Regions from separate parts of the Homo sapiens genome. Here region 1 is linked to region 2. The links come from fine-mapping of genetic effects on gene expression. Tissue or cell type: whole blood. Region 2 holds a variant in brackets; the other region holds the start of a gene. All regions are shown on one strand. Distances are from middle to middle.

Region 1 (9,330 bases), 31 kb before region 2:
GCCTTGGTTCTCCATTGGTAAAACTGGGATGACTACAGCTACATCCCAGGGCTGTTGTGGGGATGCAGGGACATGGCAGGGACAGTACCAGCCCTTCTGCAGGAATACAGGAAGTCCTCAGCATAAGCTGATGTTCTGATCCACAGGCCACCAAGAAAACAACAACGAGTCTTCTCTCTGGCAAGGAGTTTTACACGTTCCAAAGCACCTTCTCTAGTTCATCATTTGCCTTGATGCTGTGGAGTTCCCAGGGCATCGCCGGGCCCCAGAGCAACGGACACAGTGGACTACCAAAGATGAAGACTCTCTTCATCCATCCCACCCGGCTCCCGTGGGGAGAGACCCGGGGAAAGCCAAGAGGGGCTACGTGTCACAGAAAGGCTGTTCCTCTCCTTGTTCTCAGCAGTGACCTTTCCGCTCAGACACTGTCCTGAGAGCAGGAATCCTCCCCCACACCAGGGCTAAGCTCAGCCAGCCCTCCCTCTGAAGTCCTCCCTGCAGTGCCCAGAACTCACCAATAATCGAGAAGGAGCGTTTCTGGCAGCCCCCTGCCAGGAGGTAACTGCAGTATCCCGCAAAGCTGTACATGCTCCCATCAAAGGTGTTGACGAAGTCACTTCCGAAAAGGCTGCATCGGGCCGTGGATGACCTGCCGCGAGTTCCTTCTGCACAAAGGGTCCCTGGAGGGAGAGGCCACAGGTTGGGCTGGTGATCTCAGGGCACAACTGGGACCATCAGCTCAAACCTCTCTGGCCTCGTAGAAATTAGACTGCCTCTGATAGAAACTGGGCTGTGGGGAGGTATTTTCCATCCTAAATGAGACTAAAGCTGTTGCTTTCAGCTCCCAGATATGACCCCAGACTCACAGCAATAACTAAGGAACAGTTTTTCAGGAAATCCATTAGTTTCAATGACATTTACTTACTGATTTAAAATGTCATCATGTCCATTATTAAAAATTTGGGGCATACAGAAGAAAACAAAGAAGCTGGCCGGGCACAGTGGCTCACGCCTATAATCCCAGCACTTTGGGAGGCCGAGGTGGGCAGATCACCTGAGGTCAGGAATTCAAGACCAGCCTGCCCAACATGGCGAAACCCTGTCTCTACTAAAAATACAAAAACTAGCCGGGTGTAGTGGTGGGCGCCTGTAATCCCAGCTACTGGTGAGGCTGAGGCAGGAGAATCACTTGAGCCCAGGAGGCAGAGGTTGCAGGGAGCCAACATCATACCACTGCACTCTAGACTGGGCGACAGAGTGAGACTCTGTCTCGAAAAAAAAAAGAAAAAGAAAAAGAAAAGAAAAGACAAAGAAGTTAAAACCATCTGTAACCCAACATTCAGCGATGATTAGAGTTAACATTTCAATGTTCATCTTTCCATTTTGTTGTATAGCATATATACAGCTGTGGGTTTTTTATAAATTGGTGACCAACTTGTGCAAACTACCTATAACCTCTGTTTATTTCTCAATAGATTGTAAACAATTTGTCGTGCTAGTGTATATACTTCCAATATGCGGTTTTTAGTGGCTGCATTATATTTTGCATCTGAATGTCTATAGTATAGCCCTCTATTGTTAGGTTTCTAGCATTTTTCCATGTTTTAATATTATAGATAGATTGCAGTGAGCATCTTTGTACATAAATCTACTAGCATGTCTTGGGCATGTTAAATTTTAAACAGATCAGACTGTGTGCCTGACACATAGACTCTCTGAAGTGTGAACTCCTCCGGCGTCACAGGCTAACTCCTTCACTGACTATGGGTGTGTGTGTGTCGGCAGGTGGGGAAATACAGCAGTAAATCTCTAAGTGTTCTGGGTTCCCCGGCAAAAGACCCACCTAGTAGGAAGATGCAGAGAGTGTGACAAATGTGTATTTTTTTTCCCAGACTCACCTGTGGGCAGTAGCTGGATGCTGCTGACCTGAGAGATCTAAGTGGAAAGCGCCCAAGGTCAAAAGTCCCCTCCCGCCATTTGCAGACCCAGAATCTTAGCAAGGGAAGGGCAGCAGTATGATGCAGTGCAGTGGAAAGGGTGTTGGCCTGGAACCCAGGAAGACTGACCTCTGATTTTGGCTCTAGGAGACTTTGGAGCAGTCATTTCTCCTCTCTGACCCTCAGTCTCTTCATTGTACCATGGGAGGTTCAACAAGGTGACCTCCACAATCTTATCGAAAACTAATAATCCATCCAAGTCTTGGATTCCTTCCTCCTCATCCTGTGCCCCCATAATATAGGACAGTTCTGTGCCACCTTTATGCTTCTTAATTCCCCAACAGGAGATGGCATTTGCAGGCACCTGGTCTCTGGAATACAAGTCAAGGGTGGGAACTCCGCAGAACCTTCACAGGAGGCAACCAACAGCCTAAGTTAGGGCTGGGCACACAGGTGAGCTCCAGACACACCTGCTGATTCCCGGAAAGGTGTCACTCCAGATGGCCCTGGGGCAGGAATGAGAAATGGAGGCCCTTTTGTACCTACCTGGCAAAATGAGGGCCAGAGCAAGCAGCACCCCGGCAAATCTGGCAGGAATCATCTGCAAAGAAGCAAGAGACGTGAGCTGGTCATTGCTGCCCAGGTAGGCGGCTGCTGGTGTGGCGACTATCAGGGCATGCAGTAGCAAAAACATTTCTTTAAAGCAGGAGAAAAGATTGATCCTCGTGACCCCCTTTTCCCCTTTGAACATGGACTTCTGGCCCCCGAAAAAACCCCTGGCCAGTGCCAGGCCCAAGGGTAACAATCGCTGTGAGCTGGGACCTGTGGGCACCTTTCCACAGACAGCAGTCCCAGGCCCAAGACAGGAGGAAAACGCTGCCTTCCCTCCAGGCCCGCTGGGCCTCACATCCCTGCCTCCTGAAGCAGCTGGGAGCTAACACACACCTCATTCCTTCCTGCCTCTGCATCCAAACTGGCGAGTAGGAACCGTCTTACACTTGTGTGCCCACCACAGCAGCCCAGACATAGAGAATGCTCAGGAACCACCAACTTGACGGTTTGCTTGTTGGCCCCTGACTCTGTACCACAAGTGCCTTCACAAGAGCAAAGGCTGTCTCCCTTGCCTCCAACCCCAGCACCTGGCAAGATGCTTAGCACCCAGGAGATGCCCAGCAAATGTTTGCTGAGTTCATCTGAAAAAATGGACAGGAGTCCAGCGGCCCTGGATGCAGGCAGACTTCCCCACTGTGTGACCCCCAAGAGAGGGACAATTCATCCTGGCTGGCAGAGCGTACCCCAAGTCACTTAGAGCCCCTGCTGTAGCCCCTCTCCTCGGGAAAAGTTGTTAAATGAAGTGCAGAATCTGCTGCCTGAGATTCACTGGGGGTGACTCCCTTCCTACCTAAGGTCCCATCCAGCCAAAGGTGAAATCAAGCCAATCTGTGATACATCTGTGGAAGGAACACTGAGATGTCAGATACTGCCAGGTCTCGGTCTCCAAGCAGGTGTCCCCTCCCAGTCCTAACACGCAGGTACATTCAGCTGCTCCCAGGTTCTCAGAGGTGAGGGCAAACTTCATTCCAACTCATTTGAGTGAAGTACTATCAAACAGTAAAACCCACTGCATGAAGAAAAGCAGCCCCAGGACCCTCAGAGGCAAGTGGAGGAGGGAGTATTAGGATCATCCCTGGCTGAATTGAATTGCCCCTCCAAACAAAGCCCTTCTAGTCCAGCGACAGAGAACTCCAGCTCCCCAGGAGCAGGGATCAGTCAGTCCTGCATCTTCCTCCCACAACTGAGCCAGCTCTCCTTCCAAAGGCCATACCTTCCCCTGCAAATGAGGGCTGCGGCTATCTCCAAGGTCCCTGGGAAACTCAGCTGCTGGACAATGGTGCCGCCCACCCTAGGCCATGCTCTCAGCTGCTGCAAAGGCTCAATCAGGTCTGCTACAGCTCCGGACTGTCTTGCTGTTATGTAGCCCAGGGGCTGTGGAGTCCCCACTGCTGGGGGAGATAAAGCCCAAGCTGTGACATCCACCAACCACCCTCCCTTTCCCACCACAATAGCTGTGAGCTGCCACAACAGGGGATTGGCCTCCTTTTAATTACCAAAAGGAAACAATGAAAGGAAATGGTATTAGAAGTACCTCCAAGCTGATAAAGCTTTGTAGAGTTTGGAGGGAGACCTCCTGGCAGCTGCCTTAATTAACTGCCTTGCCCTCCCCAAACACCCCCTATCCCTACACCCCCACACTTGATCCCTGGTCTTCCTAGAGTGCCCCACCTGTGTGGGATAACCAGGAATGCTGGTTGTTTCAGGGCAAGCTGATACAGGCCAGGGGGAATCACAGTAGAACAACACAGCTTCCTGATCCAGCTTCCAGGGCTGGACTCCAGGGAAGTTGAGAAAAACACCTCAACCTGAGCCAATTTTGCTGCTGTGTTTGGAGGAAGGGGAGTACTAACACTTCCTATGCACCCCAGGTATGAAGGATCCGGTCCTGGCCCTGACAAAAACAGTCCATTTGGATCCTGGCCAGGGTTGAATGGATCGGCTAAAGATGAAGGTCTTGGCCACAAGCCTAAGCCTTTGTAAAATGGTGAAGGTGGGGAGTGATGGTTTGAGTCTAATACTTCTACTGTTGCTACATTCTAATAATTCTAATTCTCAAGGACATTTCCACCCACTTCTGGTACCCTGATCTTACACACACACACACACACACACACACACACACACACACACAATTCTTCTTCCCAGCCTCCCATTCCCAAAAGCCTAATTCTCAACACCATCTGCTAAACTAATTCCTACTAAAATAAGTAACTGATGCAATGGGCAGCGGTGGGGGGAAGATGACTCTCGTGCTGGGATTCCAGGCACTGAGACAAGCACCCTGAGGCATGTCTGGGTATGGAAGACCTCCTCACTGCTTCTCCATGATACCTCCTGCCCTAAGACTTTGAGAAACCACTAGGTTCCAACCTCCTCCCTTCCCACATACCTCGCACTCTGCTACTCCCTTTACCGCCCCAGGAGAGGAAGATGCACACTCCCAAGGAAGAAAAATGGCACCAGAGGCAGAATCAGCATGAGACAGTAGAAAAGGCCATTGGGGGGCCGGGCACGGTGGTTCACGCCTGTAATCCCAGCACTTTGGGAGGCCGAGGTGGGCGGATCACGAGGTCAAGGGATCAAGACCATCCTGGCTAACATAGTGAAACCCCGTCTCTACTAAAAACACAAAAAATTAGCCAGGCGTGGTGGCGGGCGCCTGTAGTCCCAGCTACTCGGGAGGCTGAGGCAGGAGAATGGCGTGAACCCGGGAGGCGGAGCTTGCAGTGAGCTGAGATCGAGCCACTGCACTCCAGCCTGGGTGACAGAGCAAGACTCCGTCTCAAGAAAAAAAAGAAAAGAAAAGAAAAGGCCATCGGGATTTCCACTTCCAGCTCTTATTTAAAAAAACTAAATAACTAATCTGAAAACCCTTTCATTACAAAATATCTTTAAATGCTGTGCTAAATACAACAAATGTTCTTTAAATCCACAGTTGATCTGGGAGGAAAGTAAGGAATATCTTAAAGGGTCAATGAGGAAGAGGAGCCTAAATGAGCATGAGGCAGGGTAGGCCCATGGGTGGCCTAGCGTAGGCCAGTCTGGGAACCCTCCAGACTGGAGGCCGCACATTACAAGAATGGGCAGTGCAGCTACGGGCCTGACCCAGAGGGAGAACTAGAACGGAGATCCCTGCAAAAGCTGAAAGTTTGAAGGGAAACATCTTCCAAACAGTGGACCAGGAAAAAAATCCATCCCCCAACCTAGAAGATAAGGAAGTTTGCCTGTCTCCACTTGTTTTGGGGTGGGGTGGCGGGGGGAATTAAGTCTTTTTTTAGAATATTCTTTTCTTTCTTTTTTTTTTTTTGAGATGGAGTCTCGCACTGTCCGCTGGGCTGGAGTGCAGTGATGCAATCATGGCTCACTGCAACCTCTGCCTCCCGGCTTCAAGCAATTCTCCTGCCTCAGCCTCCCAAGTAGCTGGGATTACATGCACACACCACTACACCCAGCTAATTTTTTGTATTTTTAGTAGAGATGGGGTTCCACTATGTTAGCCAGGCTGGTCTCAAACTCCTGACCTCGTGATCTGCCCACCTCGGTCTCCCAAAGTGCTGGGATTACAGGCGTGAGCCACCACGCCCAGTCTAGAATTTTCATCCTTTGCACTCATGCAAATAAAGCTCTCTTGACGATGAATTCAAAATCACAAATTTTTCAACACTTGAGAAAACAATCTACCATGAGCAAGAATTAAATCCCTAAGAATTTCAGATAATAAAATCATCAGAGAAAGATAAAAAGAAAAAAATGAGTGTTTAAAATTATAATAGAGGCTAGGCACGGTGGTTCATGTCTATAATCCTGGCACTTTGGGAGGCTGAGATGGGATAATCGCTTGAGACCAGGAGTTCAAGACCAGCCTGGGCAACACAGCAAGACCCTGTCTTTACAAAGAATAAACTTTTTTCAAGGCAGGGCACGGTGGCTCACGGTGGGTGGATCACAAGGTCAACAGATCAAGACCATCCTGGCCAATATGGTGAAACCCCATCTCTACTAAAAATACAAAAATCAGCTGGGCATGGTGGCACGCACCTGTAGTCCCAGCTACTCTGGAGGCTGAGGCAGGAGAATCGCTTGAACCCGGGAAGCGGAGGCTGCAGTGAGCCAAGATCATGCCACAGCACTCCAGCCTGGTGACCGAGTGAGAGTCCGTTAAAAAAAAAAAAAAAAGAAAGAACAGGAGGAAAACTTGAAAAAGAACTTTAAGGCCAGACGTGGAGGCTCACACCTGTAATCCTAACACTTTGGGAGGCAGAGGCAAGAGGATTGTCTGTGCTCAGTAATTTGAGACTAGCCTACACAACACAGCAAGACCCCATCTCTACAAAAAATAAAAATAAAAAATTAGCTGGGCCTGGCGGTGCATGCCTGTGGTCACAGCTACTCAGGAGGCTGAGGTAGGAGGGAGGACCCCTTGAGCCCAGGAGGTTGAGGTTGCAGTGAGCCATAATCGCGCACTCCAGCCTAGCCAATAGAGTGAGATACTGTCCCAAAAAAAAAAAAAAAGAACTTTAAGAAATGTATATAGTAAATTAATTGAAAAATTCAAAAACACCAGATATTTTTGGGAAAAAAAAAGCTGAAAAATGGTTCTAAAGAAATCACTCAAATATAGAGATGAAAAAATGGAAGAGCAGCCAGGCACAGTGGCTTATGCCTGTAATCCCAGCACTTTGGGAGCCCAAGTAAGGCAGATCACTTGTGGTCAGGAGTTCGAGACCAGCCTGGCCAACGTGTTGAAATCCCATCTCTACTAAAAATACAACTATTAGCCTTGCATGGTGGTGCATGCCTGTAATTCCAGCTATTCAAGAGGCTGGGGCAGGAGGATTGCTTGAACCCAGGAGGCAGAGGTTGCAGTGAGCCAAGATCACACCACTGCACTTTGGCCTGGGTGACAGAGTGAGACTCCATCTCAAAAAAAAAAAAAAAAAAAAAAAAAAATGGAGGCAGAATTAAGAAACATGATAGAATTAGAAGATCCAAAGAGAAGTGCTGAGAGAAGAAGTCCATTTGTGGAGAATTCTATATGCAGTGTCTTAGTTTGAAGTCCCAGAAGCAGACCCTGAGTATTTTAGTGTAGATAATTGATTTGGGAGGACAGGAAGCATCGGCAGGGAAGTGGGAATGTGATACGGGGCAGGGAAAGCAGTCAATAAAAGATGTTTATTATGCCAGCCACCAAGTGGACAAGAAAGCTTCCTTCTGGAGGGAAGTCTGGGAAAATGTAAGATCCATGCCTCTGAATCTTCCCACTCTTGGGTCAGGGAGCAGGAGAGTTTCTACACTTACTCCTTCCTGTCAGTTATTGTCAAGGCTGCTTCAGGAGGCATTCAGCCCTCAACACTTCTGGCCCTCAGGCACGGAGGAGCAGACACTGGTAGTCTAGAAGAAACGGAGAGATGGGGTTAGAGGGCCGTGGCAGAGGGACTGTAACATCTGGTCTACCTGTAAATTATTGTTCAGAGTTGAGGAAACATAGACTTTTTTTTTTTTTTTTTTTTTGGAAAAACAGAGTGGGCTTAACATTAACAGTCCTTTCTGAAGAAACTACTAAAGAAGGAATTTCAGGGAGAAAAAACATTTTTTGTTATTGTTTCTGAGACAGGGTCTCTGTCACCCAGGGTGGAGCGCAGTGACACAGTCACAACTCACTGCAGCCTAAACCTTCTGGGCTCAAGCGATCCTCCCACCTCAGCCTCCCTAGTAGCTGGGACTATGGGCATGTACCACCATACCTGGCTAATTTTTGTATTTTTTTGTAGAGACAGGGTTTTGCCATGTTACCTAGGCTGGTCTCAAACTCCTAGAGCTCCTGGGCTCAAGCAGTCTTCCTGCTTCGGCCTCTCAAAGTGCTGGGATTACAGGTGTGAGCCACCTCGCCCTGCCAGGAAGAAGAAAATTCAGCCTAGAAACAGGATGCCAAGAAAAGGTAAATAAATAAAATAGTAAATCTGGGGGTAAATATGAGCAGGCAGTCATTATATAAAACAATAACAATGGTAATGATAAGTTGGAGAGTTATTAAAAATTAGAACCAAAATACCAGATAGCAATGACATGTAAGACAGGAGTGAAAGTGTATTAAGGTCCTTGCATGGCTCAGAAGGAAGAAACAGGTCATGATCACTTTAGACTTAGTTAAGGCTATACTGCATAGTAAGATTTTAAGGGAGGCTACTGAAAGAATAGAATTGAATGTATGTTTTCCAAACCTATCGAAAAAAAACAAGAAATTTTTAAAAACTAGATTGATCTAGGAGAAAAATGGAAAAAGCAAGACAAATAGTATAAAATGTAAATGCAACAGTACAAAAAATTCAAACAGATCAATAATCAATAATAAAAAGGTAGAGATTATCAAATTGGATTTCTTTAAAAAGGCACACAATCCAGCAATGTTCAAGAGACAGTCCTAAAATATAAACACACAAAGACCGTAAGGAAAAGAAAGGAGAGGCAAGTGATGGCCAAGGAAAAGCGTTTTATACCACTATCACACACAGTGGACCTTAAGATCAAAGTCATCATTAGCACCAAAGAGTAGAAAAAGGTGATACAAAGATCAATGCACCAGGAAGATGGAATCTATAGATTTATGTGCACTTCATAATATAAGCTTAAAATTTATTTTTAAAAACGATTAAATTATAAAGCAGAAAAGCTTTCAGTTTTGTAAAAGTCAACAACACCCAGTTATGGAAAACAAGTAAACAAAACACTTAAGTAACCTATAAAAAGAAGGGAAGGTCCTTGGCCTGAGACACAGAGC
Region 2 (10,990 bases):
ACTGCCTAAGTACTAAACCACAAAGCAATTCTCAACAGATTTCAAAGAATCAGTATCAATGTGTTTCCCTGCATAATACATTTAATTAGAAGCAAATAACAAAATATAATTATGTTTTATTCCCATATGGCTAGAAACTTCTAAATATATTTCCAATTCATGGTCAAAGAAGAAATCATCATGAAAAATGTAAAATTCAGTCTATTCTGCTATAATGCATATAAAATGCAGAATATTATCAGTTTAATATGAAAGTCATATTAGTTCCTATTATGAACTAATACATAGGTGCAAACTTTCTGATAATTGAAGAAACCTTTAAAAACATTTTTTTTTTGAGACGGAGTTTCGCTCTGTCGCCCAGGCTGGAGTGCAGTGGCGTGATCTTGGCTCACTGCAAGCTCCGCCTCCCGGGTTCACACCATTCTCCTGCCTCAGCCTCCCGAGTAGCTGGGACTACAGGCGCTCGCCACCACGCCCGGCTAATTTTTTGTATTTTTAGTAGAGATGGGGTTTCACCGTGTTAGCCAGGATGATCTTGATATCCTGACCTCATGATCCACCCACCTCAGCCTCCTAAAGTGCTGGGATTACAGACGTGAGCCACCACGCCTGGTAAATACATTTTTAAAAGCCAAAAATTTTTCACAGTTGATCTTCTTTCATGCATATAATGGCTGGTGTAGGGCCTTGAGAACTGCTAGACTTCCTACTATGTGAAGGTATCTACAGAAGCTTCAAATATAGGTCAAGAAGCAATGAAGGTATTTCTGTTTTACCCTGATGTATTAAAAAATCAAGAAATCTAGTTACTAGATCATGTTTTTAGTTTTGTTTGTTTGTTTGAGATGGAGTCTCGTCCCGTGGCCCAGGCTGGAGCGATATGGTGCAATCTCAGCTCACTACAATCTCCACCTCCCAGGTTCAAGGAATTCTCCTGCCTCAGCCTCCCAAGTAGCTGGGATTACAGGTGCCCGCCACCATGTCCAGCTAATTTTTTTTCTTTAGTAAAGATGGGGTTTCACCATGTTGGCCATGCTGGTCTCGAACTCCTGACCTCGTGATCTGCCCTCCTCAGCAATCCAAAGTGCTGGGATTACAGGCGTGAGCCACCCCGCCCTGCCTATGTTTTTAGTTTTAATGAAATTAATCACTATTAGAAACAAATGCCCTCAAAGACCTATTTCTCAAAGCTGGAATCGTAAATCTCAGGACTCAAAACTACAAAGAATTGACTGACGATGGTGCTGATGAAGGGATACTGGTCAAAACTTAATCACATGGCCATATCTACCTATGAGGGAGGCTGGGAAATATAATCTTCAGTTTTGTATCCAGCTAAAAACTGGGGTTTTGTTGTTAAAAGTTAGAAGGCCAGAATAACCATTAGAGAACCATCAGTGGACTCTGCCACAAAGAAAATTAGCTTTAATTCAGATGATGTCTCCAATACAATTTTGACTCCAAAACCAGACATGAGCAGTATAAGAAAAAGAAAATCCCTGGCAAAACTTACTCATGAACATAGGTGCAAAAGTCCTAAACAAAATACTCGCAAGTGAATCCAACCGTTTTATTAAAAAAGAGAGTGCGTTATGACCAAGTTTTATTTATTCCAGAAATTTAGGGTGGTTTTCACATTTAAAATTGTATCATAATCATATACTACATTAACAAATTAAGGGGTAAAAATATAGGCATCTCCATAGCTGCAGAAAAAGCATTTGCCAGATTTACTTATTCATCATAAAAACTCTTAGTAAACTAGGAATTAAAAAAAAAAATTAACCTAATTAACAAAACGTGTGACTCATCATTCTAATAAGGAAATGTAAGAAATAGAAGATCAGTTCCCTTAAAAATAAAAAAAAAGACAAAGATGCCAACTCTTGCCACTTCCATTCAAGCTACATTGGAAATTCTGGGCAATGAAACAAGAGAAGAAAAATAAATGAAAATCATAAAGATCAGAACTAGGGCCGGGCGCGGTGGCTCATGCCTATAATCCCAGCACTTTGGGAGGCTGAGGCGGGCGGATCATGAGGGCAGGAGATCAAGACCATCCTGGCTAACACGGTGAAACCCTGTCTCTACTAAAAATACAAAAAAAATTAGCTGGGCGTGGTGGCAGGCGCCTGTAGCCCCAGCTACTCAGGAGGCTGAGGCAGGAGAATGCTGTGAACCCAGGAGGCAGAGCTTGCAGTGAGCCGAGATCACACCACTGCACTCCAGAGACTCCGTCTCAAAAAAAAAAAAAAGACCAGAACTAAACAACTCTCATTAATGACATACAATATCATTGTCCCAAAAGAATCTACACATAAAATATTGGAAATCAGTAGACATTTTGGCAACATCAGATATAAGATGAATATTTGAAAATCCACTACATTTCTATATACCAGCAACAGAAATATAATTGTAAAAAATTGTAAAAAAAACTCATGTAACACACAACAAAACTATAAGTTACATAATAACAGATCTAAAAAAAAAGATGCTCAGGATACATAAGAAAAAATACAATATTTATTAGAAGGCATTAATTAAAACCTAACTAATATGAGAGTTATACCATGGATATTTAGACTCAATATCACAACAATGTCAGCACTGTCCAAACTGAGATATAGACTCAATACAATGCCAATCAAAATTACAAGTTGATTCTGATATATGCAACAGGCCAAAATGCAATGGGCCAGAAATAGTCAATTTACTCTTCAAGGAAAACAGTGAGATGGCAGGACTTACCCAACATCAGGACTTCTTATAAATCCATAGCATTTTAGACTGAATAATATTAGTGCAGGTTTAGACAACTTGATCAATGAATTAGGTTAAAAGCCAAAAAGCAGACCCACAGATATATAGAAATTTTTTAGATAACAGAGATCAATTGTAGGTCAATTGGAAAAAGTTGGGCTGTTCAATAAACGATGATTATTCTAGCATATACTCTTACATATACTGCTGGTGGGATTGGAAATTGGCAAAACAATCTGTGAACTTGAGCATTTACATGCCCTAGAATTCATCGATTGCACTTCTCTAGAAGAAACGCTGGTGCATGGGAACTGCTGCATACAGAGATTTATGCAAGAATACTCACAGCATTACCGTTTATCACAACCAAAAAAAAACTATATACAATATGACACCATTTTTACAAAGCTCAAAAACAAGCAAAAGTAAACAAGTAAAGTTTGTAGATACAAACATATGTGATGAAGCTTTTTTTTTTTTTTTTTTTTGAGACAGAGTTTCACTCTTGTCGCCCAGGCTAGAATACAATGGCGTGATCTTGGCTCACTGCAAACTCCGCCTCCCGGGTTCAGGTGATTCTCCTGCCTCAGCCTCCTCAGTAGCTGGGATTACAGGCGCATGCCACCACACCCAGCTAATTTTGTATTTTTAGTAGAGATGGGGTTTCACCATGTTGGTCAGGCTGGTCTCAAACTCCTGACCTCAGGTGATCCACCCGCCTCAGCCTCCCAAAGCGCTGGGATCACGCCCGGCCGATGAAGCTACTTTTTTAAAGCAAGGAAATAACAAACACCAAAACTCAGGGTAATAGCTATCTCTTCAAGGGAGACAGGCATACAGAACAGGAAAGAACACATAGGCACATACAACCCTGTTGATAATGTTCTAATTCTTAGATGGGGTAGTGGGTTCACAGATGTTCATTTTGTTAGCATGTCTCATAATACATACTTTGCATTTGTTATTTTATATATAAAATTGCTAAAGAAGAAAAAACTCCCTCAAAGAAAACAGCCCCCACTTAGCAACAGTTAGGAACAGTAAGTCCTCAGTTATAGAGGGTGAAAGACAGCTTCTTCAGCAGCCAATTTCCAGCTGAATTTGACTTGAGCTGCTAGATTCGGTCAGAAGCCTGGGTGGGCAAGATGTGAAGGAGAATCAAGCCAAAAGGTGGAAGCTCACTCTGTACCCTGGGAAGTAGAGAAGGGCAGAGGCTTGCCCAGTGCCACACAGCTCACTGATGGAGAGTCAGGGTTCGCGGACTGACCAGTGACGTACAAGGAGCCAGAAGGGAAGACGTGAGGGGTGGCGGGTAGCACCGAGGCCGGCCAGGCCAGGCACAGGACTGCAGCCGTCTCTGGCATGCGGCCCAATGCTGATCACAATCAGATTCCCACCAGAGCGGAAGAACAGGACCCCGCCAGCACCTCCCAGATCCAGATCCAGGCTCAGACAGGAACCAAGCAGAACTGCTATCATCTTTGCGGATCAGGGTTCCTGAAGATTAAGGAACCAGATGTTAGGGCTAGAGAAAAAAAGGGTGGGGGCCGGGTGCTGTGGCTCATGCCTGTAATTCCCACACTTTGGGAGGCTGAGGCGGGCGGATCACTAGGTCAAGAGATCGAGACCATCCTGGCCAACCTGGTGAAACTCCGTCTCTACTAAAAATACAAAAATTAGCTGGGCGTGGTGGGCGCACGCCTGTAATGCCAGCTACTCGGGAGGCTGAGGCAGGAGAATCGCTTGAACCTGGGAGGCGGAGGTTGCAGTGAACCTAGATCGCACCACTGCACTCCAGCCTGGTGACAAGAGCGAGATTCCGTCTCAAAAAAAAAAAAAAAAAAAGGGTGGGGGGAAAAATTTCCCTTTAGGGTGGTTGTGAAGAAAAGGGTACCAGGTTCACCCTGTAGAAATACTGCCCTTGGGGCTCTCTTTTTATCCTATCCTACATCCACCAGCCCTTAGCCTAAGGCTGCCTGCTGCGGTTTGAGGACAGGACAGACACCTTCCCACTTATCCATCAATTTCTCTAATGTCATCGGTAGCACCCAGTGTCTAGTTTAGGTTTTTCTACCCTCCCTTCTCCGATGTTCTTATGGCACTACAGATGCTGGGAACAGTTCTGTATCTATATGTCGTGCCTCATTTTATGATTATTTGCCTCATTTCATGATTATTGCATTCCCTTTGGAGGGCTGTCAGCGTGTGAAAGTCAGGCCCATGTCTAACTTCTTTTTTTTTTTTTTTTTTTGAGACGGAGTTTCGCTCATCACCCAGCTGCAGTGCAGTGGCTCGATCTCGGCTCACTGCAACCTCCGCCTCCCGGGTTCAAGCGATTCTCCTGCCTCAGCATCCCGAGTAGCTGGGATTACAGGCGCCCACCACCACGCCTGGCTAATTTTTTTGCATTTTTAGTAGAGACTAGAGTTTCG[C/A]CATGTTGGCAAGGCTGGTCTTGAACTCCTGACCTCAGGTGATCCACCCGCCTCAGCCTCCGGAAGTGCTGAGATTACAAGCCTGAGCCACCACGCCCAGCCCGTCTAACTTCTTTTTATTCCCTAGCAGCTTATTCAGAATATTATGCATAAAATATCTCAATATTGATAAAATGTAAACTGTTTAAATCTGGGGAAGAAGGAAAACGCTGTAAAACTATTATTGCCAGCCACTAACCCTTTGGTATAAATTAGCTTTCAGAAGTTTTTTTGAGGTATATTTTGTTAAGGAAATTCAAAGACAGTTCAAGGAAACTTTCTTTTTAATTATAAAGTTTCTTGAAGCAAAAGGGGAAAACAATATGTGTTTGTTCAGAGAAGGTTTTTTGAGCGGGGAGGAGACAGGGTCTCACTGTCACCCAGGCTGGAGTGTAGTGGCAGTATCACGGTTCACGGCAGCCTAGACCTCCTCAGACTCAAGCGATCCTCCCCCCTAAGCCTCCCAAGCAGCTGCGACTACAGGCACAAGCCACCTCACCCAACTATTTTTTTGTATTTTTTGTAGAGACAGGGTTTTGATATGTCACACAGGCTGGTCTCAAACTCCTTGTCTCAATTGATCCACCCATCTCAACCTCCCAAAGTGCTGGGATTACAAGCATGAGCTACTGTGCCCAGCAAGAGATGATTTTTTTTTATCATGATTTACTCATGTCCTAAAATACTACAGAGACATTAAAAATAACGCGATCTCTACAGACTGACATGGAAGGATATCAGACATGTTACTAAGTTGAAAACAAAACAAAACCTTGCAAAACATTTACAGCGTGATCTTATTTTTGTTAAAAACAAAATTTTTAAAAATACACACATCTGTGTTGTGGAAAAGTTCTGAAAAGATATCAATGAAATAATAAACAGTTATTTCCCCTAGGGCATGCTTTTTAAATGTATAATGTATATGGATTACCTGAGGGTATTGTTAAAAATGTTAAAATTCAGATCCTGATTCAGTAGAGCTGGTGGGGCCTAAGAATCTGCATTTCCAACAAGCTCACAGGCAGTGATCCTGGCTTGCAGAGCCAGTTTTTACATTTTCAGGAATTTTGTGGCTCTGTTGTTAAATACATTCATTATTAAATACTAAAGTATATATAATCATCGTAAAACAAGTTACATTTAAGACAGAGATAACGACTCAAAACTCATACTTCCTAATTATTTTATATTTTACTATTATCTATACCCTTGAGGTTATACATACCAATGTCTGTATCTGTGTGATGGAAATGACACATAATGGTGTGTTACTGTGAAGTCTTCCCAGTTTTCCATTGAGTAACATCACATGGGTGGCATGGAATCTGACACGCTGGAAATAGTTACACCACAGAAATTGGCAGACACTACAGATCATGGCTTTTCTTCCAAAGAGTCACTTGTTAAACATTGATCAACACACCACTGCTCCCAGGCACACAGCACCAGCCTAGGACACGAAATTGATGTGGGGAAAGATATTTGGTGTTTTTTCCCTTTTATTTTTTGTTGACGATAATTGTCCATTTTTTATGGGATTCAAAGTGGTATTCTGATACATGCATATGATGTATATTGATCAAATCAGGGTAATTAGCATATCTAACATCTTGAACACCGATCACTTCTTTGTGCTGGGAACACTTAAAATCCTACCTTGCAGCTTTTTGAAACTATACTTGAAACTATTGTTAACTACTTTCACCCTACAGTGGTACAGGACACTAATGCTTATTCCCCTCAGCTTAGCCAGCTGTAACTTTGTATCCATTAACCAGCCTCTCCCCAATGTGGGGAAAGGTTCTATGAGTGAGAGGAGGAATGGGTGCTGACCAGGAAGGCTATGAACATTAAAGATGAATTTTTCTACACCAAGATTGTCTGTATTCCTAGCTCGTTGGTAGCATGGAGTACTTAACAAGTATTTGCCAACTAAGAGAATGAATCAATGCTGGCTGTGAAGAGAACCAAGTAAAGTTTCCGTTGGAAAGCACAGGAAGCCCACTTCACTCCCACAGGAGCTGGGGATGAGAAAGAGTGGGGGTGGGTATCTGCTCCTAGGGGGCCCTGGCAGGGGAAGCCCAGGACTGGCCCTCTTGCTGACTGGCACCTCAACATTTCCTGTACGGTTTTAGTTGCTGCACCTGAGAGGCAGTATGTACTTAACTCCTCCCCTGGAGGTCAGCAAGAGAGGCCCACGGCTGCCCAAACTACTGGCCAAATAAACAAACAGCCAGGCCAGGAAGCAGACAGCGGGGCCCCAGTAGACTCTGGGACTGCAGCAGCAGCCACAAAGTCTGGAAAAGGCTGAGCCAGAACCCACACCCCGATCCCTTTTCTCCCCCCCAGCCCCTCCCCTGCCACCAGAACCTTCTGTCTAATGCTATCTCTCCCTCTATCCCCTGCCTTACTCCTCTGACCCCTCTGGGCAAAGTTCCATGATTAATGGAACCATCCATTCCTCAGCTCCTGCCCTTTCCCTTGCCACCAATCCGAACTCTCCAGAACTGAGGTCAGAGCAATGGCCTGGCTGGCCCGGCGGCCATCTGAGCAGACCCAGGCCAAGCACTCCCTCCCCGTCACTCTCCGAGTATCAGGTCCAGCCATCCCTCCTCTGAACGCCATGCAGGGGCAGCTTGGCTTCTGGGCTCTGCACAGCAGCACATCCAGCACACGCCACTCAGCGTCCTATAAGCGTCTACTGAGCCCCGGCTGTGTGCTTGCTGGCATTGCTGTCGAAAGTGGAGGTACAGATTGCCAGACAAGACACACAAAGAGCTTACACTTAATGGAGGGAAAAAGCCAAAAAACAAGAAAGCAAATATAAATCAGATGGTGATAAGGGCTAGCAAGAGAATAAAGTAATGTAAGGGGGACAGCAAGTGACAAGAGTGGGTGGTATTTATGCAGAATAGCCCCGGAGGGCCTCTGCGACAGGTGCCACTTGAGAAGAGACCTGATATTGAGAGGTGACAGCGTGCTGGCAGTCCTCACAGCCCTTGCTCGCTCTCGGCGCCTCCTCTGCCTGGGCTCCCACTTTGGCGGCACTTGAGGCCTTCAGCCCACCGCTGCACTGTGGGAGCCCCTTTCTGGGCCGGCGAAGGCCGGAGCCGGCTCCTTCAGCTTGCAGGGAGGTGTGGAGGGAGTGGCGCGAGCGGGAACCGGGGCTGCGCGCAGAGCTTGCGGGCCAGCTGGAGTTCAGGGTGGGCGTGGGCTTGGCGGGCCCTGCACTCGGAGCAGCCGGCCAGCCCTGCCGGCCCCGGGCAACGAGGGGCTTACACCTGGGCCTGCAGCTGCGGAGGGTGTACTGGGTCCCTAAGCAGTGCCGGCCCACCGGCGCTGCGCTCGATTTCTCGCCGGGTCTTAGCTGCCTCCCCGCGGGGCAGGGCTCAGGACCTGCAGCCCGCCATGCCTGAGACCCCCCTCTTCCGTGGGCTCCTGTGCGGCCGGACCCTCCCCGACGAGCACCGCCCGCTGCTCCACTGGCACCTAGTCCCATCGACCACCCAAGGGCTGAGGAGTGCGGGCACACAGCGCGGGACTGGCAGGCAGCTCCACCTGCAGCCCAGGTGCGGGATCCACTGGGTGAAACCAGCTGGGCTCCTGACTCTGGTGGGACCTTGGAGAACCTTTATGTCTAGCTCAGGATTGTAAATACACCAATCGGCACTCTGTATCTAGCTCAAGGTTTGTAAACACACCAATCAGCACCCTGTGTCTAGCTCAGGGTTTGTGAATGCACCAATGGACACTCTGTATCTAGCTGCTCTGGTGGGGCCTTGGAGAACCTTGTGTGGACACTCTGTATCTAGCTAATCTGGTGGGGAGGAGGAGAACCTTTGGGTCTAGCTCAGGGATTGTAAACGCACCAATCAGCACCCCGTCAAAACAGGCCACTCGGCTCTACCAATCAGCAGGATGTGGGTGGGGGCAGATAAGAGAATAAAAGCAGGCTGCCCGAGCCAGCAGTGGCAACCCGCTGGAGTTGGCTTCCCCAATGTGGAAGTTTTGTTCTTTCTCTCTTTGGGTGCACGCTGCTTTTATGAGCTGTAACGCTCACTGCGAAGATCTGCAGCTTCCCTCCTAAGCCCACAGAGACCATGAGCCCACCAGGAGGAATGAACAACTCCAGACACGCCGCTTTAAGAGCTTGTAACACTCACCACGAAGGTCTGTAGCTTCAGTCCTGAGCCAGTGAGACCACGAACCCACCAGAAGGAAGAAACTCCGAACACATCTTAACATCAGAAGGAACAAACTCCAGACACGCCGCCTTTAAGAACTGTAGCACTCACCGCGAGGGTCCGCGGCTTCATTCTTAGTCAGTGAGACCAAGAACCCACCAATTCCAGACACAGTGTGACAGACAAGCCATGGAGAATCTAGACAAAGAGGGCTGCACGCCAGCACCGTGAGGCAGGAACACGCCTGCTGTGCTCTAGGCACACCCAAGTGAAATGCTGAGGGGCAAGGTGGGAGCATCAGTTAGGGCCCTGGGGGCCACGAAAAGAATTTGGAGTGTCCTCTGAGAGAGATGGGGACCACTGGAAAATTGCGCAGAAAAGTGACATGGTCTGATTTACGTTCTAAGGAAATCGTTCTGGGTGCTCTGTTGGGAACAGACTGCGTTAGCGGGGGTGGGGATGAGGGTGGAAGCATGGAGAGTCATTAGGGGGCTAAAGCAAAGTTTAGGCCAAAGATGATGGGGGCTTAGAGCAGGAGAGGAGGGATGGAAAGGGGTGATCCGGTCATATTTTGAAATAGCTCTGGCAGGATCTGCTGACGAAGTCTACATGGGGTGGGAGAGAGAGAAGGGTGGAGGATGGCCCAGGTTTTGGACCTGAGAGGCCTGAGTCTGTATCATAACCAGCCTGCAAGGCAAAAATGGGTCTCGTTCTTCCTCACCATATCCTCAGGAATGTGGAGTGGGTGCCGGGCCAGGACGATGATCAGGGAGAGAGGAGGGGAGCAAGGACAAAAAGACGACATGGGGGAACCGGTAGGGGAAGAAGGAATATCTACACTGTGAACATTCCTAAAGTCCTGCCTCCCCCACGAAGTCTGTGGGACTAATCTGACGAGTGATGACTTCCTGACCCTTCTCAAGGGAATTCTTGCACCCACCTCCCCTCCACACTTCCCAGCTTCAACTCCCATCCTTGAACAAAAGCAGCACGTTAGTAACCTGCTGGTTGAGAAGTAACATAGGTCACTGTGGGATTCACTATCACATGGTCAGGCTATGAACTTGACTGCTGCAACAGCCCCAAACACCCGGGAGGAAATGAGCTAGGATGCATTTCTCCCTCATGGAATTCTCTGAACGTAAGTAGTCCAGGGCTGCTCAGCAGCTCCACAGGGCAGAGAGCCAGCCCCAGCTGTTCCACCCTGGGAGGCTGGCCTCATCTCATGGGCTCAGACAGCCCATCACCACATCTGCCCTCTGGACGGCCAGAAGGAGGAAGCTGGGTCAGGGGCGTGCGGGGATGGAGCTGCGGGTCCGGGGAATGAAGGAGGGAGGCCCCTGCCGCTTAAGGACATGCCCAGAGGTTGCCTCCGCCCCTTCTACTCACATCCTATTGGCCAGAACTTGTCCCTGTGGCTACCCTGGGTGTAAAGGAGCCTGGGAAATAGAGATTTTATTCTGGGGAGTCATGTCTTCAACTAAATCAATGACTATGGTAGAAGGAAAGGCGAATTTGGGGCCAGTCATGGTGGCTAACACCTGTAATCCCAGCAGTTTGGGAAGC

The links. PIP is the estimated chance that this variant, and not a neighbour inherited with it, causes the effect.
Region 1: it holds the start of VWF, and the variant in region 2 is fine-mapped to the expression of VWF in whole blood (TOPMed, PIP above 0.99).

The regions. Positions count from the first base shown.
Region 1 is chr12:6,120,659-6,129,988 of GRCh38, forward strand. It overlaps VWF (von Willebrand factor), which reads right to left and starts at 4,012. Exons shown (of 52, transcript NM_000552.5): 1 at 3,763-4,012; 2 at 2,484-2,538; 3 at 516-680. The coding sequence starts at 2,538.
Region 2 is chr12:6,151,094-6,162,083 of GRCh38, forward strand. The region is part of intron 1 of LOC124902866 (a long non-coding RNA gene); the gene reads right to left. Among named protein-coding and RNA genes, the nearest start is that of VWF, 32 kb to the left of the region's middle. RefSeq lists an enhancer at 7,924-8,497. The variant C/A (reference allele first, on the strand shown) is at 5,199.